Linked DNA regions of Homo sapiens: region 1 is linked to region 2. The links come from fine-mapping of genetic effects on gene expression. A gene starts in region 2. The other region holds a variant in brackets. All regions are shown on one strand. Distances are from middle to middle. Region 1 overlaps TGFBR2 (transforming growth factor beta receptor 2). Region 2 holds the start of TGFBR2 (transforming growth factor beta receptor 2).

Region 1 (10,899 bases), 26 kb before region 2:
TGCATGCTTATATATTTAGACGGTCTCTGGGAGTAGATGCAAGGACATGAGAATCAAACATTATTTGGCCCTGTAAAAGGAAAATAAATAGGTAGAAAACTGAGGTTGAGAAGCAACTTTTTATTTCATACCCTTCTGTTACTTTTGAATTTTCTATTATTTTTCTGTACTTAAAAAATGTTTTCATTATAAATGAGCAAATGCAAGGCAGATTCTGTCATGGCAGATGCATGCAGCTTTCATTCAAGTGACAGCCCCACATAGCCTCTGGGCACCAGGATCAGAAGTGGAGAAACAATACCTAATAGGGAGACCACCATGTGGGCAGAAAATAAAGAGATAAGCTCAAAAGCATCAATTTTCCTTTTCATGCACATGTTTTTGTAATACTAATATAGTTTTTAAAACCTGTCAAGAATGACATAATCAATACTCTAAAATCTCTTAGAGCAGGAAATAATTCTAGTAAAATACCTAGTACGGGCCGGGTGCGGTGGCTCACGCCTGTAATCCCAGTACTATACACACACACACACACACACACACACACACACACACACACACACATACATATATATTTTCACACTGAAACTACCTACCATCTGGCCAACAATTAAGGATATCAAATGTCTGGGATACTCTCCACACAACAAGACATCTAAAACAAACACCAGGTTGGTCCCTACCCTCCTATGGCTTATATTCTAGTTTGAGAGGCAACATTAACAACGGCAACCTCATGTGAATCAGTTACTTGCCTTTAAATGCAAACATGAGGTCAGAAATGGAGACAGAGCTGATACGGGAAGTGTGTGTGTGAGTGTGTGTGTTTATGCATTTATGTGTGTGATTTCCTCATTTGGACTTGTTCAACTGAGGGAATTTAGCTTTGTAGGTTTGAGTTTCACTAGCATTTTGGCTCATGAATTTAGTAGTTTGCTATGATTGCTTTAAGAAAACTGCATAAACATAAATTTGTATTTACCAAACAAATTAAGGGATTAAGGAATGATTACTTGTGTCTCAAATGAATTCATCCAATGAGGTACTTTAAATTGAAATCTTGGCTGTACCTTTAAACTCAAATTTTTTTAAATGCAATTTACAAGGAAGTTTTTTTAGTCTTCTACGGAATGAAACAAGCTGTAGCTGAACGGAAAAATAATTGGCTTTCTCCAGTGACAAACATAAAATAACTGAGCTGGAATTTCAATTGCATCCTTTCCTATTTAACACTTACCAGCCCCAATGACCCCAAATAAATCCTAAAAATGCATACTTGGTTTTCTTGCTTTCTTGTATCATTGAAGAATGAAGTACAATTTGAGTCCCCCCAACGCTTGCTGAATTTTCATTTATTTTTCTGTTTTTTGTTTGTTTTTGTTTTTAGTGGCAGGGGACCTCTCTGAGATACAGGCCACATAACAGGAGACAAAATCTAAACATTTAAAATGACTCTTGCAGGTGGAAATATCTACACATTGTTGCCAAAGGCAGTATTTCAGAATTCTAGCACTTGTGCCATATTCAAAAAGCTGAAACAATTGTAACTTTCTCAATCATGCTCTTTCAGCTCTAATAGGACCCAGTGAATAAAACAAATTTCTGAAAGCTGGGGAGAAGCAAGCAGTTTATAGTAAATACTGTCATCAATACATGAAATTCTTAAGTTTTTCATTGATAAAGCTCACTTTAACAGTGCCTTTATCTGGCAAAGACTGACTGCAGGGACTATGAGATGAGTCAAAAACCAGAATGTAGGGTTTGGGGCTGAGAAGAACAGGAAGCCAGTTAAAAAAGTTAAGCCATATAAATGCAAATGGTATATTAGATCAAGTGAAAGAGTAGAATGGAGCACTATTTCATGAACTCTCAAAATAATAACTTTATGCCTCTGCTGAGAAGTGCTTTAAAGTTGGTACTTTACCTAAAGTGACAGCAACTGAGAAAACAATTCTCCCTCAGTTGACAGGACTTGGAGTGCTGTAGCAACAAGGAAATAATTTATTATTGAAAATAAAAGATGATTAAATAACTCTCTTGGTGATGGTCAAAACATTGGTAAATGGCACAGACTGATAGAGGCAAGATAATGATACACGACTGACGGAGTTTTACAACATTCCAATTCAACTAAAGTAATTTGTTACTTACCAGCAAAATTAGTCAACCTAAACGAAAATGTGCTGCTTTCTGACAGCCCTCATATTTAAACCCTTGAGGGAAGGGGGACAGGATAAGACATGGTCCTTTCCTCAAGATCTTTAAGTTCTTCTAGGGAATTTTTAAAAATGCACGAAATGATTTTCATCAAAAGAGCTTTGGAAATAAGGATGGTCTAAATGAAGATGTGCTTTTTAATTAAGTTATTCATTTAGGATTTAAACAATTCTTTATCTCAAAGTACTGAGGCAGCTTAATGGAAAATGCAGAAACTAACACAAAATCTGGTAAGAACAGATTTTTAAAAGATAGTGACTATTAGAGAATCTGAAAAATCAGCCCCTGAAATGAACCATTTGCCTCAACTAAGCATGGGATTTGGTCCGAATATCAATGTTCTGTGAGAGCAGAATTTTCACTGATAAATTTCTCCGTGGAGGCTTTTGCTTCAGTTTTTCAAAATATGCTGCGGGGTTCTTGTGCATGCCTGGTACCTGAAAGGTTTTTCAATTACAGTTTTATTAAACATGTGAAAATATTGGTCAAAACAGATGATTTCCATATTTTCTCTGGAAAAGGGCCAGAGTACTACCATATTTGGGAAAGGCATCCCTTTAAAAAGTAATATAACGAGGTCCAAGGCGCTTGGTTTCTAACAACCAAATAACTTGGGCACAGACTGAGAAGCTAAAGCAGAAATTGCTACAGTGGGTACAAGAGCTGGACACAGAGCACAGATGTGTTCTGTTTGGCCTGAACTCTTTTCTTTTTAAAATATAAACCAAGTTTTAAAATTCAGAGATTTCACATGCAAAACTGGTTTTCTAATTCCACTTAAAGAAATAAAAAAGACTTGGAAACAGTGGGCCCACACCATCCCAAGACAACAGTCAGCTGACTGTGAGCTGAGATGCTCCTCTTGAGAAAGTCTCTGTGTCCTCAAATTTGCCTCCTCCCTGACACTCCTTCATGTCACCTACTCCCCTGCCAGGCCCCTGTGGCCACCTGAATGTTTACAATTAATGATTATTTCACCTGCACATTCAATTCTCTCTTCTAATATTAGGGTTTAACTAGAATGCAAAAAGTCATGATTTAACTCTCTAATATGAATATTTTTAACATGCATGTAATTCTCTAATGTGTATAATCACATTTCAGTTCAAGGCCAGAGGACATCTACTTTAGAAATCAGATCTATGTGATGTTAATAATTATTATTACCATGATCATGATTTATCGAATGCAGACCAAATGCTTAGTCCAGTATTAAGTACTGTGATGATTATTTCATTTACTTATCACAACCACCATGCAATTTTGTCATTAACATTTTATAGATGGAGAAATTAAGGGTCAAAGAGATGAAATAACTTATCATATCATATCAATGAGAGAAAGCAAATAAAAGACAAAGCCAATGGTGACACACAAGCCCTCATCCTTCCTGATACTCCACAATGAAATAGATATTCCATCAAAAAGTTTAAGAGTAGAACTTTACACACATTCCAGTACAAGGCAAAGACACAGGTGTGACTACTAGGAGTTGAAGAAAGTATACAAGGGGTGGGGAAGCAATAAGTTTCTTAGACAAAAGCTTTGGTTCTTTGTAATTACTTCACTTATTTTAGGAGACATATATAATAAGGTCAGCTTGGTGAAGCCCAAGAGTTTTAAGGTAAAAACTTGAGTGTGAATTCAGGCTCTTACATGTATTAGCTGTGGGCCACTTAACTTCTTGAAACCTCCATTTCCTGATTTATGAAATCGTCCCATGTAGGATCATGATGAAGAGCAAACATGCTTGAAGTACCTGTGAAAATCCTCTAGACAGTAAAAAATGCCACACAAGCATTCACTTGCTAGAAAGGTAACATTCCATGCAATGCTCTCTCACACCAAAGAAAATTGCAGGAAACAAATGACAAGATAAGTATGAGTTTGGTAAATCTATTCCTACTCATCAATAGAATGTAGCAGTTTGATGACTTCTAAAAAACCTTTCAGGAAATTTGAATGAATAGACAAATTGAAATATAATAATTTTTTGTTACCACTGTGCCCTGATGCTTTCAAATATACAATGGAATCAATCATCGTTACAATAAAGTTGCCAAGAGTGTTTAGGATCTAGAACCAAATAATCTGGTTTTGAAATATTGTTCATAACCAGCATAGGTCTGGCAAACAGGCAGTAACTTGAGAATCCAGTTCAATTTTCAAATCCTCTGCTTACTCCTGCACATTTATCAGGCGAGAGCTGATCTACTTTGGCTTTGAGACACTTAGTGTGTTATTTCGCAACATGCTAATAAAATTAGTAAGTTTGACATGCAGAGATGGGAAGGCAATGATGTGTCTTAAGATTGTGGAATTCTAAAATATTGAAATAAAATCATGTTTGGCTTACTTTTCAAGGAAATAAAACTGCTGTACTTTCATTCACAGCTGATGAAAGAATTACAGAAGAATATGGGCAACAACAATTGTAGTAGATTTTTAAGTACCTAGTTAAAAAGTGTTCTGGGCCATCCAGATATATGGAAAGCAATATTCCTTAATCTTCTCTCCTGGAGCTCATTTGCTCACGTAAAAGTTAATTATAAAACATTGCTATATGACTTCTACTGGAGGAGAATTCACCATGCTGGGAATGGCAGCAGGTTGCAGTGGAGAAGGCTCTGAATCGACCATGAGGGGGCTTTGAGTTCAAGGGCAATTACCCAACCACTCTCTGTGCCTGTTCTCCAACCAGTCAAACAAATGGGTTGGACATGATGAACTTAAAGGTCCCTTTCATTTTGAAAAATGACACAAAAAGGACAGAAAGACACATTCAGATTCACTTTGGTTTCTAAGATAACACCAAACACTTTGAAACTTCCCCCTTCATGTTTTTCAAGCAGAGGAAGTAAAAAAAAAAAAAAAAAAAAAAGAAAGAAGTTGCAAGTATTGTTAAGGCTTCTAGAAAGGACAACAAAGGGCAGGAAATTTGAAACAAAATCTGAGAATCTGCCCTTAAACTGGGCAATTTTGCTTGTTTTCTCACAGTGCAGTTAGATGAAAAAGTGTAAGGTTGATCTTCGCCTTTCCTGGGCATTACTCATTGCTGTCATGACCTTGATGCAATTTGCAGTAAACATCATAAAGGTCTCTCTTGTGGTGAGTAGCTGCAACTTTTCTGATGCTACCTCCTGTGATTAAAATATCTACTCCCGGCCTGGCACGGTGGCTCACGCCTGTAATCCCAGCACTCTGGTAGGCCGAGGTGGGTGAATCACGAGGTCAAGAAATCAAGACCATCCTGGCCAATATGGCGAAACCCCGTCTCTACTAAAAATACAAAAATTAGCTAGGGCTTGATGGTGCGTGCCTGTAGTCCCAGCTACTCAGGAGGCTGAGGCAGGAGAATCACTTGAACCCAGGAGACAGAGGTTGCAGATGGCCAAGACTGTGCCACTACATTCCAGCCTTACGACAGAGCAAGACTCTGTATTTAAAAAAAAAAAAAAAAAAAAAAGGCTACTCCTTTCCAAGTCCTAGCAAT[C/T]CCACTAAGGTTGGTAACTTAGTCTGTTTGGCTGCCATACAAAATATGTGAGACTGGGTGATTTATAAAGGACAGAAATTTTTCACAGTTCTAGAGGCTGACAAGTCCAAAATCAAGGCACTGGCAGTTCTGATGTCTCGTAAGAGCCCCCTTTCCTGCTTCCAAGATGGTGCTTTGTTGCTGTGTCCTCTAGAGAGGACCAGTACTGTGTCATCACATAGCAGAAAATGGAAGGGCAAAAGGATCCAGGCTGGTTACCTCCAGCCCTTTTATGTGGGACTAATCCACTCATGACTTAATCACTTCCCCCAAATCTCCGTCTCTTGATACCACCACAATGGGGATTAAGTTTCAACATAAATTTTGGAGGGGAGACATCAGCCACAGTAGTTGGTGAGAAAAAAGGACAGTATTTACATAATGACAGTTGTCAATGGGCTGTGGAAAAGTCAAGATAGATTCCAGCAGTGATTTTAAGATGGAAAATGAGAACCATGCACACAGTCTTCAAGGTGCAATCTTCCAACATAGTTCTGGAACACAGCTGGCTCCTTCCATCCATGGGGAATGACCACATTTGTGTGCTGAAATAACATTTAGTACTAGAGATAAAACTGGAATAAGTGATCTAAACTTTGAAATGTTTTGAATGACCTTTGGCTACAAAGTCAAATTATAATGCTTTCTATTTCTTAAGACAACTCTTTATGGAAGTTCTAGTATGTACCTAACTTTGGCACCTTAGATTTGCCCCACACTGAATCTTATCTATTAAACCTATCTCATTCTGGGGTGAGAACCCAGATGTGTAAAATCGTATGGCCAGAGGTGACTGAGAAGTGCATTTTGACTATGTTTCATAGTCTTTTATCCATCTTAGCATAATCTTTTTACCAGCACCAGTGGAGTTGTGAACTCGCTCAATTTCTTGTGATGTCCAGTGTAAAAATGTATGCCTATAAATGTAACTCTTAGAAAGAGAAGCAAAAATGAGAAACCATGGGGGAGGAGGGGAGGAAATGACAAGCACAGTCTGTTTTTAGGACACTGTACTTGCTGTTCCCTCCAACTAGAATGCGCTTAACCCAGAGATCTGCCTTCTTCATCCCGATTTCATACCAATTACTGCTCAAATATCACATTATCAAAGATGCCATTCTTGACAACCGCTTCTAAAATTACAAGCATCTACCATTGTTCTCAGACCCTCGCGCTGTACTTATCTGCTGACATGTTGATAGAATCTTGTTTATTAGCTTGTACACATGGACTTTAATTCACTCTGTATTCCCCAAATCTCAAACATTGGCTGGCACACGGTGGTTGGTACTCTATAAACACTTGGTGATGGCTTTCCTATCCCTAAGTCCTCCAAAGCCAAGTTTCATACCTCTTCCTTAAGTTCCAAAGGAAACCTTATCTGCAGAAAATTAATGCATATTTGCTGTTGCTGGATAAAGAATAAGGATATAGTCACAGAGAAAAAAGGACATGTTGAGGCCAGGTATGGAGGGTATAAACAGTTGGTGAAGAGTTTTAAGCTCAAGGCCTAGCCTGTCTAACTTAGCAATAAAAGGAAGTCAGTTCTGAAGTCAAAGAGAGTTCTTCTTTCCCCACTGGGAGGAGCTGGTTCATGAAAGTGGAGGGCCAGAGCCAAGAGAACTCTCCCAAGACACATTGTTCAAAAGTCAAGGGCATAATCTAGATAGAGCTACACAGTAGCCATGAGGACACATGGATTTATAAATTTAAATTAACTAAAGTTAAATGAAATCATACATTCAGTTCCAAGTCAGACCAGCCATTTTCAAGTGCTTAATAGCCACATGTGGCCAGGAATAGACAGGATACTTTCATCATTGCAGAAAGTCCTATAGGACAACACTGATCTAAAGAAATTCAAAAGGACCTGCGTTCCTCGGCTTCTGAGGAGATCTGAAAACGAAGGCCCAGAGGGAAATGGAAGGAGAAGCAGGGCAGAGCTTGAAAAGTAATCGCATTGGAAAGGGCCCTGACTGCTGGCTTGGATGCCTTGTGTAATTAAAGTTCTATCCCAACTTCTTAAGGAATGAGTCTCGTATTAAATGACTGGCTGTCTGTAGTGTCACTGCTGAGGTAGGGAGAGAAGACAATTAGGGACAAGGAGTAGTGTTCCATGGAAAACACGTTAGCTATGAGTGGCAGCAGCAAAAGGTCTCAGAAGTGAGAGAAATGGACCCAACTAGGTTTGCAACAAGCTGAAACCTGTAAAGGCTCATGTCAGCTGGCACAACCTCTCAAAATGCAAATCCCTGAGCCCAAGATAAATGTAAGGCTCGTCTGACTCCTAAGGTATCAAGTAATTCTTATTAAGCCCCATTTCAATGACTGAAACCTAATGCAGAGCCCAGGCACACAGATTAAGTTTCCAGTCAAAGCCCACACAAGCCTAAAGAAAGGAAATTAACATTTTAGAGAAAAAAAAAAAAAAAAAAAAAAAAACCCACAGGCTTTTTCAAAGGCTTTTTTTTTTTTTTGGAGGATTTAAGTCACAGCATGCCAAATAAAGGTGAGTTTCTAGGAGAATACAGCACAGAGGTGACCAAGGTGGGTGAAATTTATTCACAGGGGAAAATCCAAATGCCTTCAGGGAAACCACTTTTGCAGGGTTCTTCTGATAAATACTGAACCCAATTAAAAGCATCCCTTCAGGGCAAGTTTTCTCCTAGGAGATTTCTATTGGCCGCTTTAACTTCCCTTTCCCCAGAATTTCCAGGAGAAGTTTGTAACGGTTTATAATCCCTACCACTCCATGCTCATAGACTTTAAGCATATTTTTCTCCCACAAGGCAGTACTATTTTTATAATCCTTTTAAGATTAAAACTAAAAACACAGATGATTAAAAAAAAAAAAAAAAGGCCTGGCTGCATCCTCCTACAATAAAGTATTATAATTGCAGTGCACTACTAAGTAGTATTTCCACAAACATTAGACTATCTGGTTTCCAGGACAAAGAAACAGCCTATAATTCCAAAGCACAGGAATGGAAAAGTACAAGTAATTTAATCTGTCCCACTGTGATTATAGGTGCTAAGAAATTACCTGAACGGACCTCTTTGGGACTTGAGAAGAATGGGGACTTTAATGATGCTCCATAACTGCCCTATTCATTATGATACCCAAGAGCCACCTGTGGCTATTTAAATTCAAGTTAACTGAAATAAAAATATATCTATATTTGAAATTCAGTTCCTTATTTGCACCTGCTACGTTTCAAGCCACATGTATCATCTAAGATGGTCTCAGACCCACTGTTCAATAGAACTTCCTGCAAAGGTGAAAATATCTTATACCAGTGCTGTCCTTAAACCTTAACACAGCCCAGGTATAAGATATTTTCATCTCTGCAGAAAGTTCTATTGAACAGTGGATCTAAGACCATCTTAGAGAGATAATTACATAATTTTTCCCAATTTCATAATAGAGATTATGAAGTAACAGCCTCCAAAATACAGGGTTTTTAGGCTACTGGCTACCTTCTACACTCAGGTGAACTTTTTGTAGTGGTTTACACATGTGTACCAATTGCCCTCATCTCCCCAGTTTCAAGTACATTAAAATGGCATTAGATGTAATAAAATACATGCCACTGAGACTCAGCTCAATTGAAACTTGAGTTTCTTCAGAATTCCAAACGATGGTGCATCTCTTTCTGAAACCTGAAGTGGGGACTTGTCAGGAAAATGTCTATGAGGGAGGCCTAGGAAAAAGAAGGCATTTTCCAAAATTAATAAATTTATTTCCTTGTTTTTTGTCACACCTTATTCCAGAGGTGTCTCTAGGCTACTGTGTGCGGAACGAGGTCTGGACAGAACCTAATGATAAATTGGGGGATACTGAAAGTCCTGGCACTCTAAGGAGCTTCCCCACACATCTTTAGATTTTTATTTCCCATGTGGGAAAAAAAGAAAGGGATTTCCTATCTTCCCATCACAAACTCCTGGCTTTGCAGTGGTTTTATTACGTCATTCCCCTACTTACAATCTGCCAGTGACTCAGAGAATTTAGCCCAAACTGGCACTTAAGGCTCCCATAATCTGATTACCTTTCTGCTGAATAACTCCTTTTATCAGAAACCCTTTGACCTGATAATTGCTGGCTTTCCTACCACCAAAATTTCTACCTCCCTACCAGATCTATCAGGTGGATTTTAAGGTCAAGAAGAGCATGCCCAAGGCAGCCTGCTCAGCCCCTGGAAGGAGTTCAGTGCCTTCACTGTTGGCTGTGAGGTTTACGTGATGGAGGGAAGAGACTCCAAGAATGGTGTCTGAAAGGATGCCTGGTGTCTGATGCTGCCCCTCAGGAGTGGTCCAAGGTGGTTCAAATACTGCCTGCTTTGGCCATGGCTGACAGAGCTGAAGAACTGCCTCTATATGGTGTGTGGACACACACCCCAGGCAGCCACTTGCCGGCTTCCCTCTGTTTCCTTGAAGGAAGTGGAGTAGCATGGCCCTGGGGCTAACAAGTGAACAATAGTGCCTGCCTTAAATCATACCCAGCCTTTCAGACCCAGGTCAAGTGTTTTCTCTTTTGGAAAATCATCCATTCCCCCCACTACCAGCCCCACCAAGAGTACTCTGCCTCCTCCGGTTTTGGTTTTTAACCATCTTTACTGTGAGGTATGCTTTTAGATAGGCCTGTATTTGCTCTGTTCTGCAGATGAGTTTCCAAAACCTTCTAAAACCTTGCTCATATTTGTTATGCTGGATTTAAAGTCAACAGATGGGAGTTTTCAACCCAGTAAATGGAATTTCTTTGCTGTGGGAAATCAAGTACTTTGACCTCTCTGGTGAAATTCTTCATTTGTAACCTCACTGGGTTAGGCTAGATTAGTGTTTCTCAACATGGTTCCACATCGGAATCATCTGGGGATCTTTTAAAACAATAATGATGCCAAAGTCCTACCCCAGGGCAATGAGTCAGAACTTCTAGGTGCTTGGCTCAGGCTTTGGAATTCTTTTAGAAGTTCGCAGGTGATCCTAACGTGCAGCCAGGGTTAGAAAAATAAACTGAGTTCAGGAAGGGACTTATGCTACATGGACTGGAGAATTCAATAGGAAAAAATGTAGTAGTTAGAGATGGGGCATGGTAGTACTGGACAGAGGCAGTCAGGCCCATAGGTGTTGCTTCTCATCTTTGCCTTGAG
Region 2 (10,899 bases):
GAATAAGATTGAGAGGATTAAAGGTATAATGGGCAAGAGAGTTACGTAAAGATATGACTTTGGCTTGGTATTGTTACCAGCTAAGTGAGAGGTCTGTATCTCATAGGAGACATTTACCTCAAACTGGGACATTCAAAGCAGGTTTCCTCAAGAAGATGACACTTGAACTACGTCTTAAAAGATGAGTGAAAATTAGCCAGGTAGCAGGAGTTCCAGACATCCTGAACAAAGGAACAGCTGCCTAAATTGCTCACATTGTGTGTATGTGTAGTGACACAAATAGACTGGGAAAATGTGGGCTGTGGTGGGATGTGAAGCAGCAGAGTCAAATGGGAACCAGGTCAGAGGCCCCTGGTAAGCCCAATTAAGGAGTTAATAGTAATAACAGAAGCTGATATTTATTGAGCATTTACTATGTTGCAGGCACCATGTTAAATACTTTAAAACAATATTTTATTTAATCCTCACCATAACTCCATAATCCTCATTTTACAAATGAGACCAGGGATGACTAGTAGGTAAAGCAACTACAACAGGCTACACAGCCAGTACATGGCAAGTGGGTCTGGAACCCAGGACGGCCTGATTCCAAAGTTTATACCCTACACTCTTCTACCACCAGCCTATCCTCAAAGAGAGCACTAAATGAACGCATTGGGTCCATCATGCTGGCTATGGAATGGAGAATGCAATTAAAGGCTGCCCAACTGGGGCTCCGTGACAAGGCAGGGATAGGAAAGAGACAACAAATTGATTCAAAAATACATTCAATGGGACCTAGAAGGAAACATTCAACATGCACATCCTCCTAGTGCATACAACAACAAAAAAAAATGAGGCTTTTGAAAATGAGGTGTAGAAAATAAAACACCAGTATTCCATAATGCTTTCAAATATAAACAGTTAAAACACGTATCCTTTTCTTTACTTATAACATGCTCCCAGCTGTTAAATTCAATGGCAAAGACCAGGTCTGTCTTATTCATCTGAGATGGTATCCCAGGTCTGAGCATCCTGCCTGGCAAGAGATACTCAATAAATATGGTTGAAAAGGTAGAAGAAAAAATGCCCAGTTTTTGCAATGATATCAGAGGTGCCTTATTGATCCAGAGTTAAAAACTAACCTTACTGAAAAAATTAAAAAGTCATGTTCATAACTGAGTAGAAAACATGTAGTAGTTATGTTGACTACATAGACAACAGTCATCATTAGGGAATGCTACATTGAAAAGAAGGCAATGAGTTCAAAATGTGATTAGTATTTTGTATAAATCATAACTCATTAAAAATAAGATGTTGAGTGGCCTAAAGGTGGAAATGTGTTTTTATGAGGCGGAAAAAAAGCACGAGTAGACTGAAGATCAGATTTGGGGCCTAATGATGTCTAGTCTCTTACCCTGACAAAATAAGCAGGTTATTAAAGTGATGTGAAGAACCTGATCACTATGACACTTTTACAAATTCTTTGTCCTCAATAAGAATCTATCTACTTCCAGGAACCTGAAAAGTCATATTTTTCAGACCTGAAGAGTTATTGTGCACTTTACAGTTTTCCCCAAAAGAGTCATTTCTTAATTTTGATCATTTAGGAAGAGTGAATCTATTAAGTCAAAAACGAAGAAAAAAAAACTTTCTATTTCTTAGTGAAATTTGTTCTTTTATTTAAATCCTTTGCATACTACTAAACAGAAGTACAGAAGCTACTAAACAGAAGACAGATTTTTGGGCCTTTTTAGGTGACGTAAAAGGAGCTTGTTGTTTATTAAACAATCTCATTACCTGATATATTATCTTGCATTAAGATATTTTGAAAAAATGTTTTCAGTTTACCAATTACGTTAGAGAAATTCTGAAACTATTTACTTACATGAAAAATTAAAATGTAAGTAGAATTAGGTTTCTCGTCTTCAATATATCTGTCTTCAACCATTGGCCAACTTTGAAAATTTAATTTGAATCAAATGAATACAAATTCAAAATGATTCATTAATTCAACCATTTTGAAACTTCAGTTCTATAAAAATATGAAATCTGTGGGCCTTGTAAAACTGTCTAAATACCCAAATAAAAAGCCACCACGTTTTTAAGCTAATTGTTTAAAAGTGTGTATATTGATGAAATGAAAGTGACTCGTGAACTATTGGGTCTGGAATTTGCAAATCATAAACCTTATCCTTGTAAACAGAACCTAACTAACAACATCAGGGCCTGCTAATTTCCTTCTTTTATAATCTGGAACAAAAGTTGTAATGATTTTTAACATCCACAGAAAATTAAGGGTGCCATTTTAAATATTTATTAGCAAAATGTCACTTAGGTTTTAAAAGTCTGGAGGAAAATGAGAGACAATTGAACATTCTGGTACTGCAATGCAGGAAAAACGCCAAGAACGAAACACTAAGATTTTATTAAAACCATAGGACTCAAATGTGTGTCAAGACTTTTTGCTTGCAATAGTGCCTCTTCCTAATTTGATTAAAAGCTTCCATCTCCATGCCACCTTCAATGTATGCCATAATTTTTAAAAAGTTCCCAATCCACTTCAAACACTCTAAAATTTACAACTGACCGTGATGCGCATTTTTTCTAGACAAACCTAAAGGTAAATCTGCCCATGTCCCTGGATAAATAAAATGAGTGCCTCCGGGTGATGTGGACTGTCAACTCCTCTACATTTCATCCAAAGTCTACATGGGTCATCTCCAAGTCACCAGAAGAGCCAGGGGAAAGGAGGGGAGGGGCACGATACGTAAGATGTTAAACATGAAGATGATGTAAAATTACCCAGATTCAAGCTGGCCATTTTACAGATGAGGAAACTAAGGCCCAGAAAAAGCTCTATGACTTGCCCAAATACTCGGTTACCCAGACCACAGCTGCAGATACTGTTATTTGGATCATAGCTGCAAAAAGTCTAACTTTTGGCCGGGCGCGGTGGCTCACGCCTGTAATCCCAGCACTTTGGGAGGCCAAGGTGGGCGGATCACGAGGTCAAGAGATCGAGACCACCCTGGCCAATATGGTGAAACCCCGTCTCTACTAAAAATACAAAAATTAGCTGGGCGTGGTGGCACGCGCCTGTAATCCCAGCTACTCGGGAGGCTAAGGCAGGAGAATCGCTTGAACCCAGAGGCAAAGTTGCAGTGAGCCGAGATTGCGCCACTGCACTCCAGCCTGGTGACAGAGCGAGACTCCGTCTCCAAAAAAAAAAAATCTAACTTTTGAAGTCTCAGAGGTTTTACACTTTCCATAACAAATAGTTAAGAACCCCCATTCCTGCATGCATATATATATTAATATTATATATATTTATATATATAATTATATATATATTTATATATATATAATATATATATATATTTTTTTATTTTTATTTTTTCCTTAAAAACCTTCAGAGACAGCGATCAGGTGGGTAGCCTAGTTAGGATTTTAACCCTTCGGTTTCCAACAAACGATAATTGCATAGAACCATCAACTCCCTGAAGACAGGACTATCTTGTTCCAGGCAAAATCTACAGCCTCTAGCACCCAGTAGGCATTCAGTGAGGGATTCTCGGTTTCACCTGAGCATCTCCACTCCCTATCCATCCATGCCAAGGCGTCAGTGGAGCCAGCTAACTTTCTTTTGGAAATCGATTATTTTCTTGAAACTTGTTTCCAAAAACTCCGGGCCAAGAAGCCGGCCTGAGGGAAAGCGTGGCCGTCTCCAGGAGCTAAGGACTGAGGAGCTGGCCTTTTGAACGGGTGGCTCAGAAAGAGCTGGGTGGGCACGCGGCATCGCCATGGGCGGAGTGGCCCAGGTGCGCTGGCTGCTTTGGCAGCTCAGGCTGCCGCTCCGGGCCGCTGCTCCCCGGCCGCCTTCAGATAACCAACTTCTCAAACTTCCCTTTCCGGGGGTGGGGGCTCGCCTCGAACGCGGCCAACACAACGCCTTTCCTGCTCGCACAAAGGGGACCAAACGTGCCCCGCGCCCCTTGCAACTGAACTTTCCTTCTCTTTTTCAAGAAAAACTCACAATCCCTGCAGCTACGGGAGTCGGGCTGCGTGAGTGTCGCGGGGGAAACTTTCCTCGTTTCCGCCCGGGGGCCGGGTTGCCGGGCCCGACTGTCAAGCGCAGCGGAGAGGCGGGGACCCCAGGAAGACCCCCGGCGCCCCGCCGAGCCCGGGCTGGGGACCACTCACCCGACTTCTGAACGTGCGGTGGGATCGTGCTGGCGATACGCGTCCACAGGACGATGTGCAGCGGCCACAGGCCCCTGAGCAGCCCCCGACCCATGGCAGACCCCGCTGCTCGTCATAGACCGAGCCCCCAGCGCAGCGGACGGCGCCTTCCCGGACCCCTGGCTGCGCCTCCGCGCCGCGCCCTCTCCGGACCCCGCGCCGGGCCGGCAGCGCAGATGTGCGGGCCAGATGTGGCGCCCGCTCGCCAGCCAGGAGGGGGCCTGGAGGCCGGCGAGGCGCGGGGAGGCCCCCGGCGGCCGAGGGAAGCTGCACAGGAGTCCGGCTCCTGTCCCGAGCGGGTGCACGCGCGGGGGTGTCGTCGCTCCGTGCGCGCGAGTGACTCACTCAACTTCAACTCAGCGCTGCGGGGGAAACAGGAAACTCCTCGCCAACAGCTGGGCAGGACCTCTCTCCGCCCGAGAGCCTTCTCCCTCTCCTCGACGTCCAGCCCCTAGCTCTCTCGTAGCTGCCAATCATGTTTCCTAGACCAGCCCCTCCGAGAGCTTTGGCCGACTTTCAGCTGCCCCTCACCGCCCTCCCACACCACTCAGGAGTTCCTCGCTCCAAGTATTTACTCAAGAATGACTAAGTGCACACAGTTCACAAAGTAACAACAGAAAACGTCCACGTTTTCCCTAGTAGATCAGAACATCTGCCGCCTCCCCTCAGCTTTCTTCAGATTGCTCCTAGGTGCTTTAGAGATGCGTTTTCAAATTGCAAGTTGAGATCCAGGAGTGAATACTCCAATCTATTGAGTCGCGAGCACATTTCTTTCCCAAATAAAATAGTAACGGTAAATTCTACTTCATTAAATTTGTGCTTCAGTTGTGTCTATATGCATGTATGTATGTGCATACACTGTCAAGTTGTAAAATGTTTTTCTTTAGGTCGAAGTCTAGAGGTTTTTCTCAAGTTTTAATGTACATATTGATCACCTGGAAATCTTATTTAAAAATGCAGATTCTAATTCAGTAGGTCTAGGAGGCAGGCAGAGATTCTGCATTTCTAATGAGCACCTGGATAGAGCGTCCCATTTTGCACCGCCTCTTCCCGGGACTGAGTCAGTGAGTAATTGTAAATGATCACCTATCACGAAGTGATAGTGGTGGGAAATGTAATTTTCAGAATGTATAGAGTATAGCAGAAACTGTAAAATTAAAAGTGGGTTGGGAGTCACCTGAATGCTTGTGCTTTTATTCCCTTAATGCAGGTGAAGAAAGAGAATACTTACCCTCTCATGTGCAAACGGGGTAACATGGGAGCAGAACAGTATAAACTTTCAAATTTCCTTTCTTGCTAGGGCAACCAGATTTGCCCAAGACATTCCTGGTGTACATGTTTTGTAGTTTAAATATTAATAGAACCCCCTTTCTCTTTCAGATATGTCCTGATTGGATAATAAACTATGTGATCAACCTACTTCCCACTCTCAAAGATATGATTCTGTACAGCCCTCTGGTCAGTAGATCTTCTAGCAATTCATTTAATGAATTCCTTTACCTGAGAGGAAGATTGCAGAGGCAAGGGTTTGTGCCAGGGTCTCCAGGGAATAAAGGTAAATAGCCCTCCCCCAAACCCAACTCCCAAATCTTTCCTGTCATTCTAAGTGTTCATTTGCTTCATCCTGGAATTTTAACTCATGCTCCACCTAGCACCCAAGCTGCCTCTGGATGTTTTGCCACTTCCCAGTACTCATGTTGAAGATGCAGAAAGTGCAGTGAAATCAGGAGGGCTAGGCATCTTCTTTCCCACCAATTAATTGCCTTGCCAAAGCTGGAGTGACTTTGTCAATGGAGGAAGATTGAGTTCCAAATCTTCTCCCTATTCCCTCTTCTGCCACCAGCCCATGCCACTGCCATGGCTTGTGTAGGAGTCTCCCACGAGTCACCCTCAGCCACGGCCGTTCTGGGCTCTTTCACTCAGTTTCTCAAACGAGAGCTGAATTCAGCTTTTCAAAATACAAAACTAGTTATACCAACCCTCTGATTAAAATCATTTAATGGCTTCCCACTGCTCTTGAGATAAAGAGAAGATAAAAACCAGATCCTTGAACGTGTCTTCAAGCCTCCAACTCTCCCGTAAACTTTCATTTGGCTTCTCCTTGCTTACTGAAAGCCTTCTCCAAATTTCGTGAATATGCCTCTGTAATCCTCCTACCCTTTATGCTTAGAGCCTTCCCCAGTGTGGACTTCCTTCCTCTGACCTTTTTTTCTTCACCCAGCCAACTCCTGGTCTTCGTGGATTGAATCATAACTTCTTTGATGGGCAAGCTTTCCCTCACCTCCATGAGTAGATCTTGTATTACACGTTCTCTTGGCACCATATGCTTTTCTTTTAACAGCTGTAACTTTATAATTATTTGTGTCATTCTTTAATTTATATTTCTATCCTCCACTCAACTCCAAATTTCTTGAGGGCAGGTATTATGTATCTTTCCCTCCACTTACTATTGTGTCCCTAAGCATCAAACACATAATCGATGTTTAATAAATATTTGTTGGATGAATGAATGAATCAGGCAATAAAGATTTAGAAGAAAATTGTATTTGATTGTTCTAGTTGCTTCATAACTCTGGAGAAAACATTGTTACCGAATATTTGAGATATAAACAGACTACATTTTAGCCGAGAATGATGTCACCACTACTTCCTTTTCTTAAGAATGGAGAAGTATGTGGGTTTCTTTCTTCTTCTTTTTTTTTTCCTACATTTGCCCAAGTTCCTCCAGATAGCAAACATGTACTTTCTTTCTCCTGAAAACACAATGTGGCAAATAAATGTCCAATAGATTCCAAAAGCTTTGTTTTCCTTAATTATCACAAAGATGTTTTACATTGTTGGAGGCTAGATATTTAAATCTATGGTGGAATGTTTAACTGGTGGTCTTTGCCATGATACATCATTAATGTTGATTTTAATTTTGTTTGCCCTTAACATTTCTGATTTAATCTCCAGTCTCCTGTGAAATTGAGAAGAATCAGAATTCAGCATTGCCAAGTGCAAGCTAGCCTTTTGAAAATCATCATAATAAAAATAATAGATGTGTAAACTCATGCATATTGCAATTTGATAATTTTAAAAATTCATCAGGCTGAGTGCAGTGGTCCACACCTGTAATCCCAGCACTTTGGGAGGTCTAGATGGGAGGATTACTTGAGCCCAGGAGTTCGAGACCAGCCTAAGCAACATAGTGAGATTTCATCTTTACTAAAAAAAAAAAAAAAAAAAAAAAAGCCAGGCATGTTGGCATGTATCTATAGTGCCAACTACTCAGGAGGCTGAGGTGGGAGAATCACTTGAGCCCAGGAGACGAACGCTGCAGTGAGCCATGATTGTGCCACTGCACTTCAGCCTAGAAGACAGAATGAGACCCTGTCTCAAAAACAAAAAATAAATAAAAGAAAAAGAAAAAAAAATTGTCATGATGCCCTTCCTTTTGAAATTCTTGTTGAAAGGGATGTCTGATACCCTTAATCAAGACATCATTTTCACACATAGTTGTATATTTGGCTTAGTATAATATTTTGTGTATTCACATAAGCAGTTAATATATACATGTAAAAAACTGGGCCATTTGCAAATGGGAACAAAAAAATAATAGCCCGACTCAGGGTTTAAAAAACAAGGAAGGTAACGTTTAAGCCCTTAATGAGTTGAAAAACAATAAATATCAACTTGAACAGAAATTTTAAAAGCTGACAATCTATTTTACCAGCTTTTTAAACTCTGCACGCACACACAAACACACACAATTGAACTGAATCAAATTGTGGTTTATTTAAACGTTGGGTTTCTCAGTTGTGATGAGAGAAGAACTTCCTACTCCCCTGAGCTTTGTGACATGCAGCTGTTGAGGTTACTGTCAGCTAGAGCAGTTAACAGGGAGATTCCTCTCCTTATAAATTAACCAGCCTCATTCTCAGCTCTTATCTCTTGACCAATTTTCCTTTTATTGTGAAGCAAACCAATAAGCACTGAGACTGTAGTTAATTTGTGAGGGTCATCCACCCTTTGTGGGTCATCCATGATGCTACCTCCTCCAGGAAATATTTTGTGATGCTTCACCTACTGTGATCACTCCTTTCCCAGGGATAACCCAGGGAACATTTCGTTTATTTAGCCTTTTTTTAAAAAAAAATGTTTGCCCCATTCTAACATGGAGTACATTATTGTTATTTATTTGCTTTTTAGAATTCTACCCTAATGATTGTAAAGCCCTTAAAAGCACAAAATATTCCTTTTTCAATGTAGAACCACACTCCGTGCTCTACAGATAATCAGTATTCAGTGTGTGTTTCTTGTCTTCAATAGAGAGAAAAATAAGAATATCAGTTTTCCTAATCCATTCTCTTGTTTGCAGTTCTTCACAGATATTAATAGAACCTGCAATTATGCCACATGTTTACAGAAAGCATCAATAGTATGTTTTGAAAAAAATAACTTTTTGAAAATTACAAGGGTAATACGTGTTAATTATAGGTAGGAAATTTAGATTTTTTTTTTAAAGGCAGACTTTAAAAGGATTCTTAACCCTATTATCCAAAGATAATCCTTGTTAAATTTTGGAGCATGTCCTTGCAGTACTATTCTAATCTTCCCTTTACAAATGAAGAATTTGAGGATTAAAGAGATTAAGTATTTGACAAAGGTCACATAGCTAGTAAAAGACAGAGCCCAGATTTGAACTTAGTCCTGTCTAGTTCCAGACTTGTTCTACACTCTAGAACAAATTGATCAGGTGGTTGATCTTCGCCACCTGACCAGTGAAGGATTTCAGGAAATGCCACTCCAAAATATGCTGCTTTGGTATACTGATTATTTTCAGTTGAAGGCACTTAAAGACCAGCAAATGCAGGGAGGAGGAGAGACATGTGGAACAGATGTGGACCAACCTCCTGATTGAATCTAAGCCAGACCTCCATCAGCCAATCTCAAGCCTACCTCTAGCCAATCCATATGAGTCTGAGTAAGAATAAGTAAATGCCGTTTAAGGAAAAATTTGGGTTGGTTTGTTATCCAGAATTTTTGAGGCAATAGCTAAGAGATATAAGGGATGTGAAGGGTGAGGAATCACGGAAAAGCAAGGTTAAATAATTTGCAGGTGGTAAAACTACAAAGGGGTTCTTATAGACAAAAACTATCATGAGGTTTGTTATGGGGGCTGAAGATGAGGAAGACAGTAGGACTCCAATTTAGACTTTTAGGATCATCTACAAATTAAATTGTACATACAGTTAAAGAATATGGGCCGGGCATGCTGGCTTATGCCTGTAATTCCAGCACTTTGGGAGGCCGAGGCAGGCAGATCATGAGGTCAGGATTTCGAGACCAGCCTGACCAACATTGTGAAACCCTGTCTCTACTAAAAATACGAAAATTAGCTGAGCGTGGTGGCACACACCTGTAATCCCAGCTACTTGGGAGGCTAACGCAGGAGAATCGCTTGAACACGGGAGGTGGAGCTTGCAGTGAGCCAAGATCACGCCATTGCACTCTAGCCTGGGCGACAGAGCAAGACTCTGTCTCAAAAAAAAAAAAGAAAAAAAAATTTAAAAAGAAAATGACCAACACCATTCCTCCATTCCTTGTTTACTTAAAATCCACTCTCTCTCCCATCTTGCCATTAGTTCACTAATTTTGTTTAGGATTTGGATGCAGCTCCTCTTAAGGAAAAGGCCCATCCTTGTCTAAGGGTGGGTATGTAATCCAGGTCCGGTCAAAGCGCTGCAAGAAGAAATCTGATGGGGGCTTGTGGGAAATTTTTTTTCTACCTGATAAGAAAGAAGTGCCTAAGGAAAAGGACTCACCTGTTTCCTAGCTTTGAACATAATTGGAAGAGGATAAAACAGTTGGAAATACTCCAATCACCTTTCAACAATGAGAGGAAGGCCAAAAGTATCAGAGTAGAACCACTGAATCATTATCAGCAACTACCTCAATGTAGACATTATTTGAGTATGGTGGATAGTCTGTAAAGATGGCCACCATCGCCTCCTTTTTTCACTGTACTCACACATTATTCTGCATAATAATAGGTGGGATGGAGTCTATTTTCCCTCTCCTTGAATCTGCACTAGCTTTGTAACTTCCTTTCACCAGAATGTAGTGGGAGTGACATTGACCATTAGTGCCAATTCTGGGACTGGCCTCAAAAAGAGACTTCCTCTCTCTCAGAAACCAGTTTTGCCAGATGCAGTGGAGTGCACCTATAGTCCCAGCTATTAGGGAGCTATTAAGCAGGAAGATTGCTTGAGCCCAGAAATTTGAGTCCAGTCTCAGCAACATAGTGAGAACCTGTCTCTAAAAAAAAAAAAAAAAAAAAAAAGAATAGAATCAGGGCTGGGTGCAGTGGCTCACGCCTGTAATCCCAACACTTTGGGAGGCCAAGCAGGCTGATCACAAGGTCAGGAGATCAAGACCATCCTGGCTAACACAGTGAAACCCCGTCTGTACTAAAAAATACAAAAAATTAGCTGGGCATGGTAGCACACATCTGTAGTCCCAGCTACTCAGGAGGCTGAGGCAGGAGAATCATTTGAACCCAGGAGGCAGAGGTTGCAGTGAGCCAAGATTGTACCACTGAACTCCAGCCTGGACAAGAGTGAGATTCCGTCAAAAAAAAAAAAAAAAAAAAAAAGAATCAGTTACCACGTAAGAAGTTTGAATACCCAGAGTCCA

The links.
Region 1: its variant is fine-mapped to the expression of TGFBR2 in whole blood (TOPMed, PIP above 0.99).

Annotation. Positions count from the first base shown.
Region 1 is chr3:30,625,824-30,636,722 of GRCh38, reverse strand. All of the region lies in intron 1 of TGFBR2 (transforming growth factor beta receptor 2), which reads right to left. It also overlaps the pseudogene KLHL25P1. Among named protein-coding and RNA genes, the nearest start is that of TGFBR2, 25 kb to the right of the region's middle. The variant C/T (reference allele first, on the strand shown) is at 5,714.
Region 2 is chr3:30,600,261-30,611,159 of GRCh38, reverse strand. TGFBR2 (transforming growth factor beta receptor 2) reads right to left here and starts at 4,559. Exons shown (of 7, transcript NM_003242.6): 1 at 4,183-4,559. The coding sequence starts at 4,276. It overlaps LOC105377015 (translation initiation factor IF-2-like), which reads left to right and starts at 4,236. Exons shown (of 2, transcript XM_047449400.1): 1 at 4,236-5,014; 2 at 5,602-6,761. The coding sequence starts at 4,236. The coding sequence ends at 4,676. RefSeq lists a silencer at 4,386-4,485.